Regions from separate parts of the Homo sapiens genome. Here region 2 is linked to region 1. Evidence: fine-mapped expression QTL. A gene starts in region 1. The other region holds a variant in brackets. All regions are shown on one strand. Distances are between the middles of the regions. Region 1 holds the start of EML4 (EMAP like 4). Region 2 overlaps EML4 (EMAP like 4).

Region 1 (13,044 bases):
ATCCAACGAAAAAAACAGAATGCAAAATTATGTCTGCAGTATGATTTTAACTATTAAAAAACTAAGCATAGGAAAAGACTAAGAACAAGTACATTAACATGTTAACATCAGCTGCATACAAATGGGCTAAAGATAATTTATTTTTCTATTCTTCTTTCCTTTCTATGGTGTTTTATTTAAAAATAATATGATGCTGGGCATGGTGACTCACACCTCTAATCCCAGCACTTTGGGAGGCTGAGGTGGATGGATCACTTGAGGACAGCAGTTCAAGACCAGCTTGGCCAATATGGCAAAACCTCTTCTCTATTAAAAATACAAAAATTAGCTGGGTGCGGTGGTGCACACCTGTCATCTCAGCTACTCGGGAGGCTGAGGCACAAGAATCGCTTGAATCCAGGAGGCAGAAGTTGCAGTGAGCCAAGACTGTGCCACTGTACTCCAGCCTGGGCGACAGAAACTCTGTCTCAAAAAAACAAAATAAAATAAAATAAAAATAATATAGATACAAACACTCCCAACCATACAAAAAAAGAAAAAACCTGGACTTAACCTTTTAAAAAAATAACACACTCTTGGCCAGGTGCGGTGGCTCACGTCTGTAATGCCAGCACTTTGGAAGGCCGAGGCAGGCGAATAACAAGGTCAGGCGATCACAACCATCCTGGCTAACACAGTGAAACCCCATCTCTACTAAAAATACAAAAAATTAGCCAGGTGTGGTGGTGAGTGCCTGTAGTCCCAGCTACTCGGGAGGCTTGAGGCAGGAGAATAGCTTGAACACGGGAGGCAGAGGCTGCAGTGAGCCAACATGGTGCCACTGCACTCCAGCCTGGGCAATAGAGCAAGACTCCGTCTCAAAAACAAACAAACAAACAAAAACACGGCCAGGCACGGTGGCTCACACCTGTAAGGGAGGCCAAGGTGGGTGGATCACACAAGGTCAGGAGTTCAAGACCAGCCTGGCCAAGATGGTGAAACCCCGTCTCTACTAAAAATACAAAAATTAGCCAGACATGCTGGCGGGCACCTGTAATCCCAGCTACTAGGGAGGCTGAGGCAGATAACTGCCTAAACCCGGGAGGCGGAGGCTGCAGTGAGCCGAGATCGCGCCATTGCACTCCAGCCTGGGCAACAGAGCAAGACTCTGTCTCAAAAAACAAACAAACAAAAAAAAACCACTTTCTAGACCTTTTTCACCTATAAAAGTATAATAATTTATCTCCCAAGGTTAGTATGCAAATTAAATGAGATAAAAGCTCTTTGTAAACTGTAAATAAGGAATGCTTTAAAATAATATTTAAAAATCATATACAGCATGCAAAATTAAGGTATTATAAAAGCCTAAGACAGCTAAAGGACAAGAGATCATATACCGACATACAAATATACTACAGGGTCAGGCACAGTGGCTCACACCTGTAATCCCAGAACTTTGGGAGGCCAAGGTGCGTGGCCATCACCCGAGGTCAGGGGTTTGAGACCAGCCTGGCCAACATAGTGAAAACCTGTCTCTACTAAAAATACAAAAATTAGCCAGGTGTGGTGGTACACAACTGTAATCCCAGCTACTCAGGAGGCTGAGGCAGGAGAATCGCTTGAACCCAGGAGGCAGAGGTTGCAGTGAGCTGAGATCGTGCCATTGTACTCCAGCCTGGGAGACAGAGCAAGACTCCGTCAGACACACACACACAAAGAAATATACTATAGATTTGGGAATCTTCCACACTGAGGTAATACTAGATGAAGTAGATTCTTTCCCTAAACTTTTTACAAGTATTAGAATCTATTTTAAAAATCAAAATATTTTTCTAAAATTTCTTATGAATATTGAAGTTTTACATGTTACAGAAATGGACTCCCACATACAAAATACAGTATTTTGCTACATGTTATTCCAACTTACACATAAGACAGAAAAAGACTCCCTAGAATTTAAACTGCTAAATTATTTCATTGTTTTAAAAAGCCAAGCTCTGCAGAGATAAATCTAGCAATCAACAAATGTTCTCTCAGAAGTTACTTGCTTGAAACATAGCACAGCATTCTAAATGGTGCTTCCTCCCTTCATCCCCATTTCTGGTACTTAGGCTTAATAATAAACATCTCTACATACAGTACATACTTTATTTATTTATTTATTTTTTAGAGGCAGAGGTTTGCTCTGTGGCCCAGTGGAGTGCAGTGGTACAATCATAGCTCACTGCAACCTTCAACTCCTGTGCTCAAGTGATCCTCCTGCCTCAGCCTCCCAAGTAGCTGGGGTTACAGGCACATGCCACTATGCCTATTTTTGTTTTTTTTGCAGAGACAGGGTCTTGCTATGTTGCCCAGGCTGGTCTCAAACTACTGGGCTCAATCGATCCTTCCACCTCAGCCTCCCAAAGTGCTGGGACTACAGGCGTGAGCCACTGCACCTAGTCATGGTACTTATTTAAAAACCAGGCAGTAAGCTCCTAAAGGGCAAAAAGCATGTCTTTTACTTGTCTTTCCCATAAGAACCACCAAGCATAGTGCTAGCCCATGTTCGATGTTAATCCATACATATGTTGAAAAACACTCTAGCTAACTCATGTTGAAGATGCTCTACTAACCATTTAAGAGTTACTACTCATGTCTGGTTACACAACTTGAGTCTATCTTGAACTCTTCAAGAGGCAACCAATAAAAAAAGTTTAAAAAAAAAACCTCTCCAAATATTACATGAAAAACATTTTCATGTAAATAAGGAATGCTTTAGATTAATATGTGAAAATCATATACAGCATTGTTCCTTTAAGAAAGCAAGACTATTATCTGTGATGAGAAATCACAGTTCTAACAATGTGATGTTAAAAAGACTAATTTCTGAATAGTCCATAAGTTGAAGCATACTGCTATACTTGTTCACATTTACAACCTGTACCCAGAATGTTGTTTCTTATAGATCCTAATCCAACAATTTCATTCACTATGATTTTTCTTAGGGGGAAGAAGATTTTAAGTTTTGTTGTTTAACTTTTGAGGCAGAAAAATTTAAAGCTGACTGGTTAGGTATAAGGTTTCTTTCAAGTGAAAACAGACTAATCTCTAGGTTAATTCCAAGATAAAAGTCTTAAAATTAAACCTCTATTATGAAAGAGATTCTAAAAAGATTAAGCATGAAATGCACCCAATCCCTGCCTTATAAAAAATCGGTAAAAGCTGTATGAATAGCTTCCCACTTTTGCACATAGACCTGAGATTTAATATACATACAGTATATACATTTTGCACATGGGTATCTATATGTAGTGATTTAGAGGCAACACATCAAGGTAATTGAGTACTTTTCTCTCCTAAGTTTAAAAAAAAAAAGGTTTCTAAAGTGCTGCCTTAAGTTACCATAATTTGTGGATTAAAAGATATATTAATAATACCTAAGGGAAATTCCAGAGTACAAGCACCTGCCAGCCAAGTTGCCTGAAATTCATCAGCTGCGGAGATTAAAAGAATTCTTCACTTGTTTTTTATGTAAAACAAAGATAACATAATCAGTACCATGTAACTTCAATGTGGCATTTATAAAATGGCCAATCACTTATCATTCCTATGATTTAAAAAACCACTACCTAGTCTTAATTGCCATTAGACATCTTATAAAATGCACATAACACAGTGGATTTCTTATCTAAACATGCAACAATCAAGGGTACAGTTTGAATTTTAAGTTTTCACTTCACAAAATGAGTCACCATAGGATTCTCTGAAATAATCTCTTCTCTAAAATTATTCTGTTTATAAAGTACTCAATTTTTCTGCTTATAAAAATGTAGTTTTTTCACCATTTTTCAAGAATCTATCTAATATGTAAAAGGAAATACACACATACTTCCTTGAGAATAAATGCTTTCAATAGTTGTAACCCCAGAAGAACTTCACGTTTTGACTTCTTGTTTAAAAAAAAAAAAAGTTTTTAAACACCTACTAGAGTAGAAGTGCTTGCCTTTATATTCATGGCTCTCCTGATGGTAAAATAAAGATCAATGTAACTCTAAGCTCTAGGCTAATTAACTGCAGAGAACAGAAACAAGCAATTTGGCAAGAGCTGAGCAAAGCTCCGCTTAAAGACTACCAGTAAAATATACCAGCACTACTCCTCCCCCACCCCTTTAAGGTTTCAATTAAGATGGGGCCTAGTTTTACTCTTGCAAGGGGGACAGAAAGAGAAAGCACAGAGCTCCCACTGAGAAGTATCTTCATCAAGAACAGCTCCAGAAATACTGCCAGGAACCATTTCCTTCCCTCTCTGCAGATGCAGGTTCCTCTGATAGGCATATCTCCTCTGCTCCTGATTAACACCATATCTAAAGGAAAGTCTCATCACATACCACCCAAAGCATGGCATCAAATGAATTTTTTAAATCCAACATTAGGGTCAACAATGACGCTCTTTATGAAAAGTGTGAGCCCCAACTGCAATTCATCTTCATCTCTCGGTCTTTTGTATCACTTGCCTCATAAACTGGTTAAGAAAGAAGAAAGCTATTACAAAGCATAATCAATGTTTGAAAATAAACATTAAGTGCCCCAACTGGTGAGAAAGACTCCTCCTAAACACTTACAGAAGATGAAGCTTTAACAAGCCCTCCAGAAATCTTTAGAGCCAACACGAAAGAAGTTAAAGTGATCTCACCACTCCTACAGGATGAGGACCCAATACAGTATAAAGATAGCACAGCTCTCCACAACATCCCCTAAGAAGACACTCAATTTTTACTTTAGTATAAGATCAGCCCTTCAGCGGACATATAGGACAAGTTTTTCGGTCCAACACTTACTGTGAATAAACCAACGCATGGAGCTAAAAAAGAACCAGGGAAAAATGGATGTCTCTCTAAAAAGAGCCCAACCTAAGTAAGGAATTACAAGACATCAAAGGTTAGATAATGGACAACAGGTGCCTTTGAGGAGGAAAGAGTAACACAACACTCAGTTGCCTCCTATTTTAGGATTTCCACTCTGAAAGCAATATAACGACAATTTTTTCTGCCCAAGAAAAAGGGAAGGCCAAAATTATAGGTTTTACTATTTAATATCTATAATAGGCCCATTGCTCTTTGACTTACTTTTTTACTTTAGATTTTAAAAATCCATCTCATCTCGATATTATCTGGATATAGTACGGCCTATGGCCAGACTGCTCACTGATCAGTGAACATTAACCAAGTAGAGACTTATTATCAAGAAATGTAAAAGAAAGGCGTCTGAATACAAGCTACCTGCACATAAAAAACTCAAAATACAGTTCCAGCAGTAGGTATCACACAACTGCGTTATCAGCCAAAGCTGAAACTGTTTCTCTCACCATTCTAACAGTTGAACTTAATCTTTTACTAGATTTCAATGGCCTCGAAGAATAGTAATTCCAGATTCAGCTTCTAGGGCAGCGAATACTAGCCTGGAGTTTTGATTTTCCTAGCCAGAAGATTACCTTCATCTGGTGAAAGGAACACTGAAAAGGCACTTCAGCCTATTTAATAACCTCTTCCCTTTCTCCATTCCACAAAGACAACATCTTCCAAAAATGGAGAATCCTTTCCTTCCCTGATAGAGGCCCCCTTTCCTATTGATTCATTGGGCAGAATCACTTCTCCCCAGCATGTATGCAGAACCAGAAAACACTTCTGCTTTCACTCTTAAAGAGGGTCCCCCAACACAGATGCACCTCTTCCTTTCCTGCATTAAGCAAATGATGCTCCGATGCTTCTAGGTCTCTCCACCACTGCAAAATGCTCAGAGAAGTGGAGGGATTGAAAAGGAAGTTGCCTACTACTCTGAAGGATACTGGAAAGTCGCCTTCAAATCTAAAGTGAAGACTTGGGGGCGGGGGATGCCCCCTTCCTGAAGAGGGAATGAGGGTCCCTCCCCTAAAAAGGAGCCTCTGTTCGGGTGAAGGCGATCCCCACCCTGAAAGAGAGGCGTGTATGTGGAAAGGTGGTGGAAGGTTGTACCCTGAAGAGGAGCCTGGATTTGAAGAAATGTCCCAACTCTGAAGGGGGGTAAGTGGAGGGAGCCGTGAGTGTACGGGGAGGGGTGTGCCAGCTATCGGGGGGCCTGAGAAGGAAGGGGTTCCCACTTTGGGGGAACGAGGGCCCCGCACTGAAAGGGGCTCCGGGAGGAAAGGAGGGTCTGACACAGAGGAGAGTTGGACATGGGGGAGGGGCCCTCAGTCCACCGGAGTCCGCGGAGGGGCGGCAGCCTCGAAGGGAACATGTGCAGTGGAGCCGCTGCCACCCCGAGGGGCAGGCGGGAGGGCAGGGCCTGGGCTGTGTGCGGAAGGAAAAAAGTTCCTACCCTTCGCAGAAGACGCAGGACTCCCCAGCCGTACTCACCGAGACTGCCGGCGAAACCGTCCATCTTGCGGGGAAAGCGCCGGGCTCCGGGCTTAGAGGGGCGGGCACTTCATTCAGCGGACCGACAGAGTGGCCGACGCTGAGCCTGACCCGCTCGTTCTCTAGGTCGCCCGGCTCGGCTACCGGCTCCCGCCTCCGTCGTCCGTCCGTTCGCCCTGGGGTAGTAAGCCGCGGCCGCCCGAACCACTTCCCCGTCACGTTGAGAGCCGCGCCGCTCAGCCGCCTGCCCGGCCTCCCTCCCAGGCAGCAGCCGCGAGCGCCGCGCCGCGCCGCGCCCCGCCCCGCCCCCGCGCCCGCGCGCAGCAGTAGCCCCGCCCCGCGCACGCCGTCACACTTCCGACTCCGCCTCCCACGTGACGCCACGGAGGCGGGGTCTTGCCAGCCCCGCCCTCTCACCTTGCCTCGGCCTCGGCGTTTGTCCGCCTCGCGCCAGGCTGGTGGTTGCGCCTGCGCGGTAGGCCTGCTGAAGGCTGGGGACCACGGTTTGGAAGCTGGTTCCAAACAGGTGGGGATAAGGCATAGACTCTGGCCTGCGATACTCTGATGCATGAAGGATCCTCTCCCTATGTGGCCCCTGGGAAGCCCGCAGAGCCAAGACTGGACCCCCGTGACGGGAGATGACCACCACGTGGGTCCTACAAGGACACTAAAGAAGCAACCAAGAGGGAGAGGTTCTCCCTCTCCCCCAATAGGGTGGGGGACAAATAGGGGCGAAGCTTCTTGACTAGCTCGATACCACCACTGCCACAGCCGCAGGGCCCGGGACAGATCAGAAGCAAGGAATTTTAGTGCTGGACATGACCCAAAAGTTCATCTTGTCTAACCCTTCTTATGAAGAAAAACACAGAGCCTTAGAGAGGACAACCTGCCCAAGGTCATCGAACCTAGTAGAAGCAAAAACTCAGCCTTCCTTACTCTCCCTAGCGTTCTGTCGTCTAGGGGTGCAAAACGACCATATATGGCAGGCTATAGGATGGCCTGCTAGGGAACCATAATAAGGGTTATTTCAAATGAAGTAACACTGAGTTCTAGGCCCAACTCCGTATGACTCAAGAGTGTCAAATCACCTAATTTATTTAGGCGTCACTTTATTCATTTGCAAATTGGTTGTCTGGACATGTAACCAAAACATGTAAATATACATAGCGTTCATATTCTTCCTCCCTTCCCCAACACGATTTCCCATACTTCTAAAGACTTTCTCATGGTTTGTCAAGTCCCTCCTGGGGCTCAGTTGTGCAGATTAGAGTAAGAGAGAGAAGAGCTGTAAGGTACTGAAGAACTGAATTGATCTATACATAATAAATTGATAAATACATAATAAAAAGCTGAGTTAGGGGAAAACAGAGTCCTACTACACAGAGTTGCAGGAGAGAGGGACAAACAAGAAGGGAGACAAGAAATATGTAATGATGAGAGAGACTTAGAGGAATTAAATGATTGAAAGGATTGTTAAACCTTCTTGGGGTATACGTCTCCCTTTGTTGCCTCTTTAAAAATCTTCCCTAAAAATGTAAATTACTTTGCATTTCTTATTTGGATATAAGACCTGTTTCTGAATACCATACTATATGGAGACTGGCCATAACGCAGCCAAGATAAATTCAGGTTACAGACTAAACGGTGTCTAAAATTTCCTTCTCTTCAAACTTAAATGATTTACCCAATGTTCCTTCTGCTATGGGCATTTTCATATGCATAAGTTTCTATTAAGCCTAAGTAAATGTTTGAGAAGTTCTCAATTCTGACAGCTGTTCCTTTGTGTCTTCAGGCCACACTCTCTGCCTTAGGTCGATTAAAAGAATAAGAACTTGGCATATTGGTATACATATGTTTTATGGTCCAGACCTGGAAGTGTGTACCTCCCTTTTGTCCACATTCCACTGGCCAGAACTTGGTCACATGACTGCAAGGGAGGCTAGGAATGTAGTCTGTGTATCCAGAAGGAAAAGAGACATATTTTGGTAACAGCTCTCTGGTTTCTGCCACACTCCCCTTCGTGGCATTCATCAGAGTTAAAATTTTTCATTTGCTTGAATGATTTATTCAATAAGCATCTCATTCATTATACTGTATACTACAAGGAAAGCTGTTAAAATGTAGGAGAGTTAGTACATCCCAGCAGTTAAGAGTGCAGACTCTGGAATCATGCTGCCCAGATTCACATCCCAACTCATCATGTACTAGCTATGAAACACTGGACAAATTACCTAACCTCTCTGTGCCTCCATTTTATTGACTGCAAAATGGAGATGATAACACTTCTACTTCTTAGAGTTTTTGAGAGGATGCTATGAGGTAATATATGTAAAGCACTTAAAACAGGGCACAATATGTTATAAGTGCTCAGTAGGTATTAGCTGCTCTTATTTTGTACCTGTTTTTGCTCTCTATTATATACTTAGTGCATATTACAGAACAGCTTTTTGATAAATATTTATTGAATAATGAACAAACATAGAAGAATTCTGAAAACTAGTCAATCTGAATACATTGTTTCAACAACCAGTGCCTGAGTGTTTTAAAGCAGCCAGAATTTTTGTTTTATATTTATCAAAGTACATCTTGCAATCTAAGCCTCTAATACTACTATGATAAAATAAAATTTAACATACATCTTTCAAAAGTGAAACCATAGCTGAACATTATCAAACACACACACAAATACTAAGGTTCTAAACAGTTACGAATTACTGGAGGGTTATTTTGGTTATTCACCTTAACAAAGGATTTATCTTTAGATTATTTTCAATGTGGAGTTCCATTGCCCCTTTGAGCTCCTTAAGTATAACTTAATTCAGGCAAATGCAAAATATGTGCCGTTTTTCAGGATCCCAGTTATTGGAAAAGGCTAAATATAGCTGTATCAAATAATGAAAACTTAGAACATTCCCTTTATGGTTTTGGTTTTTGAAACAGGGTCTCACTCTGTTGCCCAGGCTGGAGTGCAGTGGCACGATCTCAGCTCACGGCAACCTCCGCTTCCCCGGGTTCAAGCAATTAGCATGCCTCAGCCTCCCAAGTAGCTGGGATTACAGTTGTGCACCACCATGCCCAGCTAATTTTTGTATTTTTAGTAGAGACAGGGTTTGGCCATGTTGCCCAGGCTGGTCTCGAACTCCTCACCTCAAGTGATTCGCCTAGCCTTGGCCTCCTGAAGTGCTGGGATTACAGGCTTCAGCCACCATGCCTGGCCAGAACATTCTCTTTATACATCGAATCTTGACTCTGCATACTTACCTTCCCCTCTATGTCAAGGTTAGTATGTTGTGGGAGGAGTTTCAGAATACTTGTGAAGATACATTGTCAAAGTCTTGACCTAACGTTTGAAGAAAAATAAGATTCCTATTCAATTTCTTTGTTTTACTCTCACTAGCTAGATGATCTTGAAAAGTAACTATAAACTGTTTTTGTCTGCTTGCTTTTCTCTCCCGCAGACATTTTAAAATAAATGCCAAGGAAAATTAAGGGTTTTTTTTAAGTATGCTGTGTCTTCAGTTCCTTTTATTTCATTATTTGAATGTTATTTAAAAAATGAAACCCTATAGTCATGGAACTATATAGATTGTATAAACCTGTAGTCCATGTAAGCACAAATTTGATAGAAAAAAATCAGAGTTAATACCTGAGTGGGGGAAAAAAGGGATTCTTCATTTTTATAATATGTTTAATGTAAGCAGTGTGTAAAAGAATTCCAAAATCTATAAGAAGCTAAATGGCAATGTTATTCTAGCTTCTAACCATAAAGAATGCCTAGGGAGAACTTCAAAATTATTGCAAGAGAAATAAAAGGAGTTTGAGAGGAGATACCCCAAAGTGTCAAAAGTAGCTGCCTCTGAGAAATGAAATTAAGTGGAAGAAGGAAAGGGTAGAGGAGAGATATGGGGGATTTCACTTTTATTTTATTTTAATCATAGAAGTATTCATTTTTTGAAAACATTAAAATGCAAAAACAAAAAATATATTTCACTGCATATTTAGACACTCATAAACTGTGTCTGTAGAGACTGGTTTAAAATATCATACTTATTTAATAACTGTTTTACCAATCTTGGCATGATGGTTATCTCTCTCGTAAGACTTTCCAGACTTGCTGACTTCAGGAAAGAATCAAGCAATTAGTAGTGCTGTAAATTCTTGGTGAGAACTTATGAGACTGAAATCTATCCTGTGGGGATCACAAGCCATACCTCACTTGGAGGACCTGCTGCATAGATGCATGAGTGAGTGAACGAATGCCTATTGAGGTTAATTTTGGCATTTCTCATGGTGCCATCCATGACCTACAGAAAGAAGACAACTAGCCTTGCCTGCAGAGCTAAGTTTTCCCAATGCTAATTCAGAATTTATGCCATGAAATGAGATTTGAACTTGTTGAGATTGTGGAACAAACTTTAAAGTTTCTTTTTATGTGTTATAGCTTTACTACATTTACTGGATGTTGCGCAAGCCTTAGAGATAATAGCTAATAATTTTCATGTGTCCATCATAAATGTAAAATTTTTCTCCATGAAGAGTTCATAACAATCCCTTACAAAATTGATATTCTGCAGGGAAATACTTTTAAATAGAAATATTAGAGTGGAAAGCAGCCAATCAAGGAAATTCAATTCTCAAAATTAATAACACAGGAAGTTCTCTACTTGCAAATAAAATATTTCCAAAAGGTCATTTGTAAGTCAGCAGTTTGAAATTAGTAATAATGCCATAATTGGTGGTTAGATTGCCACTTAGCCCCAAAAACATGTAGCATGCTGATCCTAACCTGCCTGCGTTAAACCACACTGATGACAGCCTTACTTAAGGTTTTGAACCAGACAGGTCTGAAATTGAATATTGCCTATTATAAGCATCTGTGGGTTGATGTTGCAACCTAAATACAACATATAATACCGTTTCAACTTTCAAAGTTCTGACTTATGAAGGTCCTTAAGTGGTAGGTTTCATTATCCCCATTTTTCAGACAGGGAAAATGAGCCTCAAGAGTATAAAACTATAAAATGGGAAAATCAAGTTTTGAACCCATATCCATCTACATCTGAAAATCAAACTCTTCGCTGCACCAGTTTGCCTTTTGGGCTCAATGGGATTCTGTTGTGGAGATCCTTGAACACCAGACTGAGACGCCTATCAACAATGCAGTTTTAGCAGCAAAGTGATATGATCAAAGCATTGCTTTAGGAAGATTAAACCGGGTGGACACATTGGAAGAGGCACTGGAAGTGGGGAATCCAATTAGGAGACTTGCAGTGAAGCAGTAGCTGCAGAAAGCGCCAAGAAAAAAAAAATCTTGTGAAGGAAAACATGAATTAACAACAAACAAAACCCTCGCAGAGCTGGGTGGACTGATTGCCTCAGAAGCTAAGGAAGAGGAGGGAGTAAAACAGGTTATCCAGGTTCAGCTCCCAGTGATGGAGAGAATAATGGCAGCATTATATTAAAATGGGAACTTAAAGAAATGATGTGACTGGAGAAAAGAAAATACAGTGATGAATTAACCTTTGTGGGAAGCTGAAGGGAATCAGAGGTCATCTTTGACAGCTGGGGCCCAGGCACATGACCTAGGCCAAGTGAATGCCTCAACCCAGGTCTTTTAATGGCAGGGATGAGTTGGGGGGCAGTGATACAAAAACTAGCAGTCAGAGACCATGCTTGAAGATAGTTGAGAAATTGAAGAGCAACAGTGATGGTGTGCAGAGGTAGGAAGTAGGGCAGCCCACTCCAGGGCAGCGTCCTCACTAGAGTCCTAAAGAGTAAACTTGCCCATGCTCTCTGTGCCCTACACTGCCTGGGTTTCTGCCCATTTTCTGTGCCTGGCCCTCTGATCTTCCCATCGACTGAAGGAGCTACCTGATATCCTCCCAGCGAATTTGTTTTCTGCTTGAGTCAGCCAGAGTGGGTTTCTGTTGTTTGCAATAGAGAACTCTGAGTGGTACAAGTGCTGCGTTCAGTTTTAAACAGATTGTGCTTGGCGTCATAACCAGATGTCCAGATGGAAGCCTCCAGCACACAGTTTGAAATGTGGACTGTGGTTTAGGAGCGGGTTGGGTCTGGGAATATACACGCAGGAGACTTCTCAATAGAGCCGATGGTTTAAGCTATGAGAAATCTTAGAGGAAAAAGATTTAAGGGAAAAAATGGAAATGAGCAGAATGTAGAACTTGAGGGACCTCCAATATTTAGGAGGCAAGAGAAGGTGTCAGAGAAGAAACAATAACAGCAATAGAAGGCAAATCCTGCTAGTGCCCTATCACAGAACCAAAAGGAGCCAAAAGGTTGTTTTTTTTTTTTTTTTTTTTAATGATGGAAGTTGGAAGCTGTTAAATGCTACAGAGTCCAAGGAAGATGAGAAGTGAGGAACGGATACTAGATTTAGTGATTACGAGATCACTGGTCTTTAGAGAGTTGTTTATCTTGATGGTGGAGGAAAAAATCAAGTTGCAGGGGATTAAAGACTGAAAGGGGGGTCTGAAAGTGGAAAGAAAAAAATGCAGGCTACAGTTTAAAGGAATTTGGCAGGATTTTGTCTGTTTTGTTCACTGCTGAATTCCCAGCTCCTAGAAGAGCACCTGGCACATGGTAGGTGTTCAATAAATATTTGTTAAATGAATGAATAAAGAAGATCAGAAACAGAAAATTGAGCTGAAGTGTGATGAAGAGGAATATTTTA
Region 2 (13,044 bases), 110 kb before region 1:
CAGGGTTCAAGCAATTCTCCTGCCTCAGCCTCCAGGGTAGCTGGGGTTACAAGCAACTGCCACCATACCCGGCTATTTTTTTTTTTTTTTTTTTTTTTTTGTATTTTTAGTAGAGATGGGGCTTCACGATGTTGGCCGGGGTGGTCTTGAACTCCTGACATCTAATGATCTACCCACTTTGGTCTCCCAAAGTGCTGAGATTACAGGTGTGAGTGACTACCCCTGGCCAGATTAAGTTAATTTCAATTGTTTTGCAGTCGCTTGTACTAGAAAGTGCTATAATGCAGATATTTGGGACACGGTGTTTAGAGAACTTCCTGACTACCTGGATGTGAGAAGTGAGGTAAAAAGAGCCATGAATGATGTCCAAGTTTCTAGCTTAGGTAGCTAGGTGAAATGCGGAGTCAATCACTAAGGGATGAAACTGGTGGTTGGGGGCTAGGAAAGATGATTATGTACAGATTTGAACATGGTGATTTTCATTTGTGGTAGAGGACATTCAAATAAAGATGTCTAGGATGCAACTAGAAATATGAGTTAAACCTGTTAGAGATCTGGGCTGGAGATAACTGATACGGGACTCAGCAGATAGAAAATGAGGCCATGGGAGCAGCATATAGTATCAGTGGAGCATGTGGAATAAAACTCTGAAGAACACCAACATTTAAAGTCCTGGAAAGGAGATCGAGAAATCGCCAGTAGGAGGAAAACCACAAGACTTCATCTGGTAAACCTTACTATGAAGAATCAAAATTGATATATTTCATTTTCATGCAACTTCCCTATGTTTCAATGTTAAATTACTCTGAATAACTGGAAGTCAATCTATATCTTCATTTATGTTTTTTAAAGTTTGAGGTTTTCTGACAACTTATATTCCTTTTAAGTACAATCAAATCTACTTCTTTCAAAATGTTAAGTTAAACATCACATCATCTTTCTGCCCAACAAGCTAAAAGCTTGAAGCTTACTCAAAACAAAACTGTTAAGAGAGGAGTTGGAGAGTAATGTGATGTTATTTAAGAGTATGGCAAATATTACACAGACTTTTTAAAGCCATTCTATCACTTTGAATCTTTTTAAATGCCTGTCAGAGGGAGAAGTCCATTTCTGGCTCATATAAACCCAGCTTCAATGCATTTTACATTCTTCTCTTACAACGTACAGCTTGATCTACACAGAGATCAACCCTTGTACTGTAAAGAGTTATAATGCAATTATAGCAATTATAAATGCTATTGAATTTTCTAAAATAATCCTACAAACACAATTAAGACCAAAAAACTTAACATAAGCCCTTCAGTTACATCAGTCGTATTCCTACTGAATTTTTCCTCTAGATTTCTAAAGCTTTAAAGATGGAATGAAATTACATGTTTTATTAAAGAAGAAAACCAAGAAGTGTGTTCAGTCTTAATTATGAGATCACACATCCATCTACTCTGGCATTTCAGGACTATAGTAATGTCTGAAATATTGAAATTGCTTCAAGTTGCTTGACTATTTTATCTTGTATAACTATAGTGTTAATATCTTAACGATTATGACAAATCACTAAATTTGCTGAATTTGGCTAGTAGATCTGCTTTTGCGACTTACGAATAGATAGTTCTAATACCAATATAGTTCCAAATACCTGCAAAACAAGTAACGTACTCTAAAACACAATACTCGGTTTTTTAAAAATTTACCTTTATTTCTGCTCCTTTTGCTTTCTTCTGCCAGTCCCATACAGTAAGCATATGCTCATTGGAGTCATCAATAATACATAAATGAACACCTGAATCCTAAAGAAAAGTCAATCAGAGGCATTTTAAAATTCACTGATAGGGCTAACATTCTAAGAAAGAAATACCATCTTATTAAAACTGCAAATAGTAAGATAACCCAAAATCCTTTAAACTCATCGCTCTCTGAAACATAATGAATACACTATTTACTACAATTGTATTTTCCTCAAAAATATAAAGATTCTTTTACAAAATATTCTATTTAAATCCCCTCATCCCTCCAGGTTATTTCCACTTGCCATCTAGTCACTCCTATTATTCAGAGATAGTGACTAATTTTGAGGCTATCCTAGTCCCTTCTGCATCTTATGCTTCCTTCTTGCTGCCTGTATTAAGCTATTTTTCCTTGTGGTAGGTAAGAAGAAATGTACACAATTTCATAACTTTGTTCCTCACTAAATTTTGACAGTTTGACAGAATAAGCTAAAATTCATGGCTATTTTAGAGTTTGCTGATTTCAGTTTTCTGTGAGATACCTGACTTACATTAACTTGAATAAACAACCTAAGTAAAATTATAATGAAATTCCTTTTTTATAATGAAATTTCCTGTTTTTCTGAAACCATTCTCATTCACGTATTTTAAGTATTCCAGTTTAAGAAAAATACCTATAGATGATATTAAATGCTTTTTAAAAATAGTATCATTTGTGAAATATGCTTTACAATGTTATGGAACAGAGAAACATTGTAGTGAAGAGTGAGAGGCACTGAGGAAGGGCAGAGCTTACTCTCTTCTCCTCTTTATCTCTTAGCCTAAATTGGAATATTATCTGAATTAGAAAAGATAGAGTTATGAGGCAATTCAAGATGGTCTTAACACCGTAACAATGGTTATCAACAACCTGACAACAGTTCCTGCTATAGAGATTTATGGGAGAAAATAAAGTAGCAAAAGTATTGCCTTTATGACCTCTTATCTCCTTTTCTAAATGTCCTTCTCCCAATTCCTGACTTGTTGGACCCTTGACATTCAGTGCCTTCAAGCTAGCAAAGTTCCTAAATTCACTAAAATTTATCTTTCTGCTCTAAAAGTGTCCTTTCCTCCATGTCCCACAAAACTCCCATAATCCAGAATACAGTTGCCAATGGCTAAGAACTGAAGAGATAATATGAATATATAACTGAGGTCACATAAAATCTACAGGGGTATTTATCTTTGAAACTAAAAAAGTATGTATCCTAAAATATAGAAGGTTGACTGTATACTTTATAATCATAATTACATACAATTCAAGAAAAAACCAGAATGTTTAAATGAGTAAGATCTTGTCTTATTTTACCCTTAGAATAAAGCCTCAACACTTAGAAAGGACTGCTGGGGAAAATTTTAAACCCATGTTGTCATCAATTCAAAACCAAGATAATTCAGGACTTCAGGAAATACAAAGGTCTGATTGTTTCTGCTGCTCAAATATGACATCAAGAAAAGCCAATATTTGTACAGAACTGGCCAAGTTTGCTGTGAATTTTTAAAATAAAATAGATCTTTTCTATGATTCAAGGTAAGGCAAAAATGCATCCTATTGCTTGTCTGAAATTGTACTATGCTTTGTATATATTCCTCTAACCACTTCCTGCTACTACATGGGAGCTCTACCTCAAGGCAGCATAATTCCAAGAATAATTAAAGTAAAATATCTTGCATCCTAACTAAACCAAAGTACTTTAGGACTTAGGTCAAAATGCTAGCCATTTAGCAATAGCTAATATGTTAGCAATAGCTAGCATCTCATTTTTCAACTCAGGATTATCACTTCATGGCCACATAAACACAAAACTGAGCTTAACTTCTTTCCTGCTTTTTTGTTCAGCTTGCTTACTTCTCTAAAAATTGTTACTTACTGCTTTTGAAAAATCCAGGCATCCTACTCCACGCTCAAAAGTGCCAAGTCCAATAATCTGCAGTGTGGATAGAGTAACAGAATCCCACACTCTGACGTGGGGTTGTAGAGGCTGCAAAAACACAAGACAGCAGAGCAACTGGACAGGTGGATGCAAATAAACACCAATAGCACACAGAACTAATGCCATTTAAAAAAGTAATAGGGATGGATAAGCTTCTAATAAATTACTAGATTTAGACATGCCTCCAAATGAATCTTAAGTAGGTATTTTCTTATACTGTGAAAATAAGAAAATAGCAGCAAATAACTTGTGTATTTACTATGTTACACATACTATTCTAAGTATTACACATATTAATTCATTTAATCCTATGCACTACAGGTACACTATTATAATTATCATTTAACAGATGAAGAAATTGGAATACAGAGATTTAAATAACTTGCCCAAAGTGATACCGCTATTAAAAGGTTGAGTCGGCCAGGCACGGGGGCCCACACCGGTAATCCTAGCACTTTGGGAGGCCGAGGCGGGCGGATCATGAGGTCAGGAGATTAAGACCATCCTGGCTAACAAGAGTGAAAACCCATCTCTATTAAAAATATAAAAAATTAGCCAGGCATGGTAGTACGCGCCTGTAGTCACAGCTACTCAGGAGGCTGAGGCAGGTGAATTGCTTGAACCTGGGAGACACAGGTTGCAGTGAGCCAATATTGTGCCACTGCACTCCAGCCTGGGAGACAGAGCAAGACTCCGTCTCAAAAAAAAAAAGAAAAAAAGAAAAAAAAAAGGTGGAGTCAGGATTCTAATCCAGGCAAATCTGCTCCGGATACTTTTGCTTTTAGTATTACTAATCTTCATTCCTGAGAAAATAACACATTTTATCAATGTCCAATAAACTGCTAAACAGCCCTTAAATAGCATTTGAAACTGGAAGGGGTCTTAGAAGTTATCCAGTAGAAACCTTCTACTCCTTTTCTTTAAAGAAACTGAAGCCTGAGAATGTCATGAGTATAGTCATACATACGTTACTCAGTCACCATTAATAGTCACTGTTGATCCTTAGAAATAAGGTATTTGTTATACAAACCAACTGAATAATATTAAATAGTAACTGTAACTCTTTAAGTTGTATCAGTTCTAGTCACACATAAAATCAAGAGTTAGCCGGGCATGGTGGCACACACCTGTAGTCCAGCTACTCACTCAAGAGGCCAAGGCTGGAGGATCACTTGAGCCCAGGAGTTTGAGCCCAGCCTGGGCAACGAAGTGAGATTCCACCCCTATAATTAATTAATTAATTAATTAAGAAAGTAAATAAGAATCAACAGGTTCATCAACTAAGGGAAACTGCAGTACCTTCCCGCAGACACTGGTTACTTTATATGTTATTTTATATAAAGAAAATGTAACGAGCGTATCAGTTTTCCCATTTTTACAGTAAATAGCTTCTTAAGGGAGAACACTTATTTTTTAAAAACAAAATTTATTAGTATGACTCTGTCTTTTAAAGTGTTCTTATATCCTAATGTTTTTTCCATGCTTATACTAGAAATTCCTCAGTACTTAAATTTTAAAAGAATAAAACAAATGAGTTGTGGTTAAAATTACAATAGATTCCACTCTAACAGCAATGTCTCTAGGTACAGAAGGCATAACACTATGCCACTCACCCTTCCATCTTTATCCACGCCAGCTATCTGTCCAGTTGCAATCCTAATTTTGTCAGGATGTATAGCAAGGCTAAAAAGCAGTATTAAGAATGATTTTAAACACAGGAAACATGAAACAACAGAATACCTTTGTACTGACATTTTTCAAATAAGCAGTTTTTAATCGTTAAAAAACATACGTTTATCTGTTTTCTTCAGCAAATCAAACAATCATCAAATATCTGAAGATTTCTGAATTTTCAGCTGTACTTTTTACTTGTTAAGCTGCACAGATTAATGAAACACTAAGTTCAAAGAAAATATTTATAACTGTGGCATGCTAACGAACTGTTTTCATTTGCTGAAGTTCCTTTCTAGTCCACGCACAATGGCATACAAATCACACGACTTTATTATAGTGAAGATGCAATATTGTGCTGTTTAATTTTAATCTATTAAAGTACAAGCATTTTTTCCTTTTGCTACATAATCCTCATACATGCTGACTTGACAACTCTTCCATCTTTTAGGCCATTTCTTACTTTTCAACAAAAGAAAACAGCAATGAGCATCTTCACACATAGTGCTTTCAATCTTTTAATTAGTTCTTAGCGCTAAATTCTTGTAAGTCAAACTGAGGCAAGGAATTTTTAAATAGAAATGGGAAGTAGCGTAGCATATGTGCCTAAATTACTCACAGCACGTATATGAGTGACTAGCAAATTTCTGAAAAAGACATCTTTATGTCCATATCTAGACTCTTTCAACAACGGTTGTACACTGTGAACATTCTCTTGCTCTTAAATATTTGTACTTAAGAACACATCAGAGGGATATTTACATATTAATACATAAAGTGCTTCCTCATTCTTTACAGCTACATGGTGACCTATAGGTACACTACAACCTCACCAGTAGTCCCCAACTGAAAAATACTTAGGCTGTTTCTAATCTTCATCACAAACAATGCTGCAGTAAATAGTTTTGTACATACATTATTCTGCAAGTGTAAAAGGCAATATTTTAATCAACTCCAAAAGTTCAATATCTATATAATATTATAATAGTCATCTATTAATTTTTTTCTGGATAAAGATACAGGTGCCAGCATAGTACAGACATAAAAGCTTTTAAATGTTGGAAAACATCCAGTCAGTCCTTGGATCTAAGTGGGGAAAAGGGTAATAAATAAAAAATAAAAGTTGGAAAATA[T/A]TAATAAACAATAAATAATTGCATTTAACTAAAAAGTAACAAAATAATTTAAAAGCATTTAAAAGGAGTTCTCACATTTGTAGTATGACATCCTACGGCATACTTATGATCCTTATTCAGCTAGATTTCTTTCTTCCCAAAAGAATAAAGCTTCAAGTATAAAATTTATCTACATAGGACAAATCCTCAATAAATATCGAGTAACCAATAATCACTTTCAGAAACCTGAAAATGTCCAGTCTGTCCCATATATGTTTCACACTACAGACCAGAGAAGAGAAGGACTGTACGACATGAGAAAGCAGAAGAGGTTCCAATCATGATTTATGGAGGATGTGTTTTGTTGCTGCTGATACCACACCACCATTTTGGAGGCCGAAAGTCCTTTTTTTCTTTTTAAAATATATTCAACAGATGACCCATAATATTTTTACATTCTGAGCTTTCCACAAGAAATCACTTTCAATAAAACCCAAATTTAAAAAATACAAAATGAGGGCCTGAAAGAACAAAAATGAACCAATGTTAAATGATACCAACCATTTCACACAGTCTGTATGGCCCAGGTAGTGTCGCTGAGTTCTCTCCTCATAATTAAATAGTACTACTACTGATGCAATGAAATAAACTATTTTCCCGGTCGGAAGAAGGTAAACATTAGCTCTACAGTCCTTTCCTCGATAACCATATCTTAACAGAAAAAGAGTCAAGGTTTTAAATAAACACAGTTTTCAAGTTGTTAACAGATTTTTCATGGATACTTAAGGAATTAGGAAGGTACAATGAAGAAGACTGAACTAGAACTAGAAAACTCATGTCCTGGACGGGCAGAGTGCTCACACGTGTAATCCTAGCCCTTCAGGAGGCCAAGGTGGGAGGATCACTTCAGTCCAGGAGTTTGAGAGTAGTGCGGGCAATAGTGAGACCCCATCTCGACAGAAAATAAAAAAAATTAGCCAGGCATGGTGGCCTGTGCCTGTAGTTCCAGCTACTTGGGAGTCTGAGGTGGGAGAATCACTTGAGCCCAGGAGGTCAGGTCAAGGCTACAGTGAGCAGTGATCGTGCCACTGCACTCCAGCCTGGGCCACAGAGACCCTGTTGCCGCCCACCCCCACCCCTCCACCAAAAAAAAGGAAAACTCATATCCTGCCATTATCCCTAGCGTAACCTGACTCTTTCAGTATGTTAAGATCTTAGTTTCCTCATTTACCAGACAAATATGTATTGAAATCCTAATGTGTATCAGGCATAATGGTGAACATTCAGTTCTGAACAAAAAAAATGTAGGCCCTATGTCTCTAGAGCTTATCCTCTGGCAAAGAAAAAAAAAAATCACCAAATATAAAATTACAAATCGTGGGGGGGTAAAAAAAAGACTGCTAGGAGAAAGCCCAAATGGAGGACCTAATTTAGATGGAGAGAAAAAGAGAGAGAAGGGAGGGACCAAAAGAAGGCCTATCTGGAAAAGGGATATTTATGCTGGACCTAAATGATAAATAAGTAATAGCAAGGAACAGTTTGGTAGGCAGAATGTTTGTTAAAAATATGTTGTACAGAATGAAAGGATTGGTGAGTGTGTCCAAGCTGATATCTGCCTAAGAAGGGAATAATTCAAGGGACGTGGGAGGAAGTGCAGGAGAATGGAGGCAGACAACAGAGTTCAAACTACCAACTCCTTCTGTTTCACTGAGTTTCTTGGAGGTTCTAAAAGAAGTGAAAATTTCTAGGTGAAATTAGGAAAGCTCTCCTTTAACAGTCATTTAAAAAAAAGTCTGGCTGAAAAGTTAATTCTGAATTAGAATCAGCCTTGTTAATTTGAGGTTACAAAATGCTTAACTGATGTTTTCTTATTTAATTCCTACAACAGCCCCTGTGAGGTATGGGTTATTAATTAACCCCTTTTATAAGTAAAGAAAGTTAAGGTTCACGGAGAGTAAGTGGCAGGGCCAAAACTCAAACACTAGTCTTCCAGTTCCAGTCTAGTGCCTTTTCTAGCAAGTACTTGCCATGATGTTCAAAAAATATTGTTTATCCTTTCCAAAGATATAAACTTTGATGGCTTTAAATTGCTAACAGCAAAGAATTAGAGATAATGTCTCCTTTTTTTTTTTTTTTCTTTTGAGACAGAGTTTTCCCCGGTCGCCCAGGCTGGAGTCCAATGGCGTGATCTTGGCTCACTGCAACCTCCGCCTCCCGGGTTCAAGTGATTCTCCTGCCTCAGCCTCCCGAGTAGCTGGGATTACAGGCATGCACCACCACACCTGGCTAATTTTTTGTATCTTTAGTAGAGATGGGGTTTCACAATGTTGACTAGGCTGGTCTTGAACTACTGACTTTGTGATCCGCCTGCCTCGGCCTCCCAAAGTGCTAGGATTACCAGCGTGAACCACCGCGCCTGGCCTGATGTTTCCTTTTTAATTTTTTAAGTAGCTGTTACTTTTTTTTTTTGTATAAAGACAATTTTGACAGAGAATACGTTAACTGATTTGTTAACTAGAGACAAAGCAAATGAATTTGCTGTCATGGTAGAGAAGGATACGCCCACTCCAGTTTGAGCTTCTCAGGAGGCAGTTCCGTTCTGATGTCATCATAGTTGTCAACATCGGAAGGAATGAACATGGTAATTGGCCGACCGCGCATAAACATTTTAATATATTCTCCTTCTGTTGAAACACAAGACAAAAGTTAAGTCATACGTATTTTCTGTATAGTCATACAAAAGTGGATTATTAACGTGATACAATAAAAACAAGACAAAAATGACTACTTCAAAGTTTTAGTCTCATTATATACAATTGTTTTTGTTATATAGTTGTCCTGTATCCACGGGGGACTGATTTTAGGAACACCTTCCTCAGATACCCAAATCCATGGATGCTCAATTTCCTGATACAAAATGGCATAGTATTCACATATAACCTGTATATTTTGAATCATCTCTAGATTACTCATAATATGATGTGAATGCTATGTAAATAGTTGTTGTATTGTTTAGAAAATAATGACAAAAGTCTGCATATATTCAGTATAACAGACAATTTTTTTCCCCAAATATTTTCAACCCATGGTTGGCTGAATCTGTGGATGTAGAACCCATGGATACAGAGGGCCAACTACATTACACAGCATACAGAAAACAAAGTGATACTATAAAGTCCTAGTCTAAAACATTGTAGGGAAAAATAAACCAATGGCCATTTCCTTAACTGAGAATAATTTTTTGATAATTAAAATATAATTTATCTAAGTTGACACATTTCTACAAGAAGTCCAGGAAGGCTGAGTAGAAAAATGCTAAAGAAAATTTTGTGACAGCAGTTTTTCTAACACTTGAAAAGAAGAGTGAGATTATTTGGATAGACAACAACCATGTCTACCACGCTACTGGATGAACCTACAGATGTTAAACGGCATAACTTTTTCTTATGCCAGGAAACAATCAACAATAAAAAGGCCACCTACAGAACGGGAGAAAATATTTGCAAGCCATATATCTAATAAAGGGTTAATCTCAAAAATATATAAGGAACTCAATAGTTAAATAACAGATTTTAAAATGGACTAAGGACATCTTTTCTTTTGTAGTCTCTCCAAAGACATAAAAATGGCCAACAGGTATACAAAAAACTGTTCAACATCACTAATCATCAGAGAAATGCAGATCACAATCACAATGAAATATTACCTTATACCTGTCGGATGGCTATTAATAATAATAATAATAATAATAAAAAAAGACAGCCGGGCGCGGTGGCTCACGCCTGTAATTCCAGCACTTTGGGAGGCTGAGATGGGCAGATCATGAGGTCAGGAGATTGAGACCATCGTGGCTAACACGGTGAAACCCCGTCTCTACTACAAATATGAAAAAATAAAAAATAAAAAAAATTAGCCAGGCATGATGGCGGGCACCTGTAGTCCCAGCTACTTGGGAGGCTGAGGCAGGAGAATGGCGTGAACCTGGGAGGTGGAGCTTGCAGTGAGCCAAGATCGCGCCACTGCACTCCAGCCTGGGTGACAGAGCAAGACTGCGTCTCAAAAAAAAAAAAAAGACGGCAAGTGTTGATGAGGATGTGGAGAAACTGGGACCCTTGTACACTGCTGGTAGGAATGCAAAATGGTATAGTCGCTATGGAAAGCAGGATGAAGGTTCCTCAAAAAGTTAAAAACACAACTACCATATGATGCTGCAATCCCACTACTGGGTATTTTCTAGAAGAACTGAAATTAGGATCTTGAGGAGATATCAGTATTCTCAGGTTCACAGCAGCACTATTCACAATAGCCAAGATGTGGAAACAACCTAAACTCAACTGAATAAGGAAAATGTGGCATGCACATATATATATACACACACACACATCTTGCAATAATAAAAAACAAAAACATGACCTCAAGATTTCAAATATAATACCCTGAGATTTTCAAGACAGTGCTAAGAAACAGTTTCCTTATTGGCAGCATAGGTATCTTATATTTACATAAACCAATAGGTGTTTATAAGATCTGCGACAGTCTAAAACTAAAACGTTAAAAAACACAAGTCTAGAATCAAATCAATACATTTTTTTTTTTTCCAAGAGAGTTTCGCTCTTGTTGCCCAGGCTAGAGTGCAATGGTGCCATCTTGGCTCACTGTAACTTCCACCTCCCGGGTTCAAGTGATTCTCCTGCCTCAGCCTCCCGAGTAGCTGGGATTATAGGCATGTGCCACCATGCCTTGCTAATTTTTTTGTATTTTTAGTAGAGATGGGGTTTCACCATGTTGGTCAGGCTGATCTTGAACTCATGACCTCAGGTGATCTAACCACCTCAGCTTCTCAAAGTGCTGAGATTACAGGCGTGAACCACCATGCCTGGGCAATATTACACATCTTTTACAAAAGAAAATACTTCACTCAACTGATGGATTTTTTTTTTTTTTTTTTTTTTTTTTTTTTGAGATGGAGTCCCGCTCTGTCACCCAGGCTGGAGTGCAGTCGCATGAGCTCGGCTCACCGCAACCTCCGCCACCCGGGTTTAAGTGATTCTCCCCACTCAGCCTCCCAAGTAGCTGGGATTACAGGCATGCACCATCACAACTGGCTCATTTTTGCATTTTTAGTAGACATGTGGTTTCACCACGTTGGCCAGATTGGTCTCAAACTTCCGACTTCAAGTGATCCGCGCCCCCTCAGCCTCCCAAAGTGCTGGGATTACCTGTGTGAGCCACCGCATGCGGCCGCAATTGTTTCTTAGTCCTTTGAAAACAAAAAACCAAAAAAACCCCACCCCGACTTAACCCTGCCTCTAGCATCCCAGTGACCTACATACAACAGGTTTAATAATATTGATGGTGATTGTGAAATGGTTACAAAAGGAGCTAAAGGGGAGACAAAGACTTAGTACAAATACATGGGAAATGTCTAGCACTTGCCAACTTGTCTGGCATGATATGAAAATAGCATTAGAACCAGACTGAAAATGTGATCATCAACCAGAGGCTGATACAACCTTAGGATCTCTAATAATGACTTAAACGACCTAAGGAGAAGAGTATGTAATAATGCAGTAGTTTATATGATGCAAACCATGAAGAGGAAGGAAAGATTAATTACTTCTTGAATGTCTGCAAGTATTTCTTCAGTCAGATTAAAAGGTTTGCTTGGGCTGGGCATGGTGGCTCATGCCTGTAATCCCAGCACTTTGGGAGGCCGAGGCAGACAGATCACGAGGTCAGGAGTTTGAGACCAGCCTGGCCAACACGGTGAAACCCCGTCTCTACTAAAAATACAAAATTTAGCTGGGTGTGGTGGTACATGTCTGTAATCCCAGCTACTCGGAAGGCTGAGGCAGGAGAATTGCTTGAACCTGGGAGGCGGGGGTTGCAGTGAGCCGAGATCACGCCACTGCACTCCAGCCTGGCGACAGAGTGAGACTCCGTCTCAAAAAAAAAAAAAAAAAGGTTGTGCTTGTTATGGGTGAGAAGTTCAAGTTATTTTTATTATTATTACTCAGTGTAGTTGGCCTCAGAGTTTGATCTAAGAACAGGCTAAGGCCTCCCACACTATGGTTTCAACATCACATGATGTACGTCTTCATTACTTCTGAATCTAAGAGTGGGCTCTGCTTCCTGATGATTTTTAGCATAGCTGAAATTTGATAAGAAAATGACCAGCTGTAAATATTCCCTACTTCTGCAGTCATCCTGATCTGTATTTCCTTGTCCTTATTTGTATAGTTTACTCTTTTAAGTGTCAACTTGTTATATAATTTTTCCTCTAGTTTTTAAGATTACAAACTTTCTGAAGGCAGATATCTCATCCTTTGGAATTTATTCCAGGATCTTTTATCAGAGGTGTACATCATAAATACTTTCTGAATAAAAAAGACATTTAATAGATGCTTCTATCACCACTTAGAAAGGAGTGTAGGTATAGCAAAGGGGGAGGGTTAGTGATAGTATCAAGGAAGAAAAAAAAATGCTCTCCTTTTTGAACAGGCACAGCTCAGAACACCATATTGGGTATCAAGTGTCAAGCAGCCTAAGAAACCAAGTAGAAAA

The links.
Region 2: its variant is fine-mapped to the expression of EML4 in whole blood (TOPMed, PIP 0.99).

The regions. Positions count from the first base shown.
Region 1 is chr2:42,162,946-42,175,989 of GRCh38, reverse strand. EML4 (EMAP like 4) reads right to left here and starts at 6,637. Exons shown (of 23, transcript NM_019063.5): 1 at 6,354-6,637. The coding sequence starts at 6,378. It overlaps EML4-AS1 (EML4 antisense RNA 1), which reads left to right and starts at 5,759. Exons shown (of 4, transcript NR_110584.1): 1 at 5,759-6,020. RefSeq lists silencers at 6,626-6,685, 6,786-6,835 and enhancers at 6,251-6,903, 6,916-7,055.
Region 2 is chr2:42,276,970-42,290,013 of GRCh38, reverse strand. EML4 (EMAP like 4) reads right to left here. Exons shown (of 23, transcript NM_019063.5): 7 at 9,041-9,164; 8 at 7,042-7,191; 9 at 5,311-5,380; 10 at 3,635-3,745; 11 at 1,692-1,787. Among named protein-coding and RNA genes, the nearest start is that of COX7A2L, 78 kb to the left of the region's middle. The variant T/A (reference allele first, on the strand shown) is at 6,502.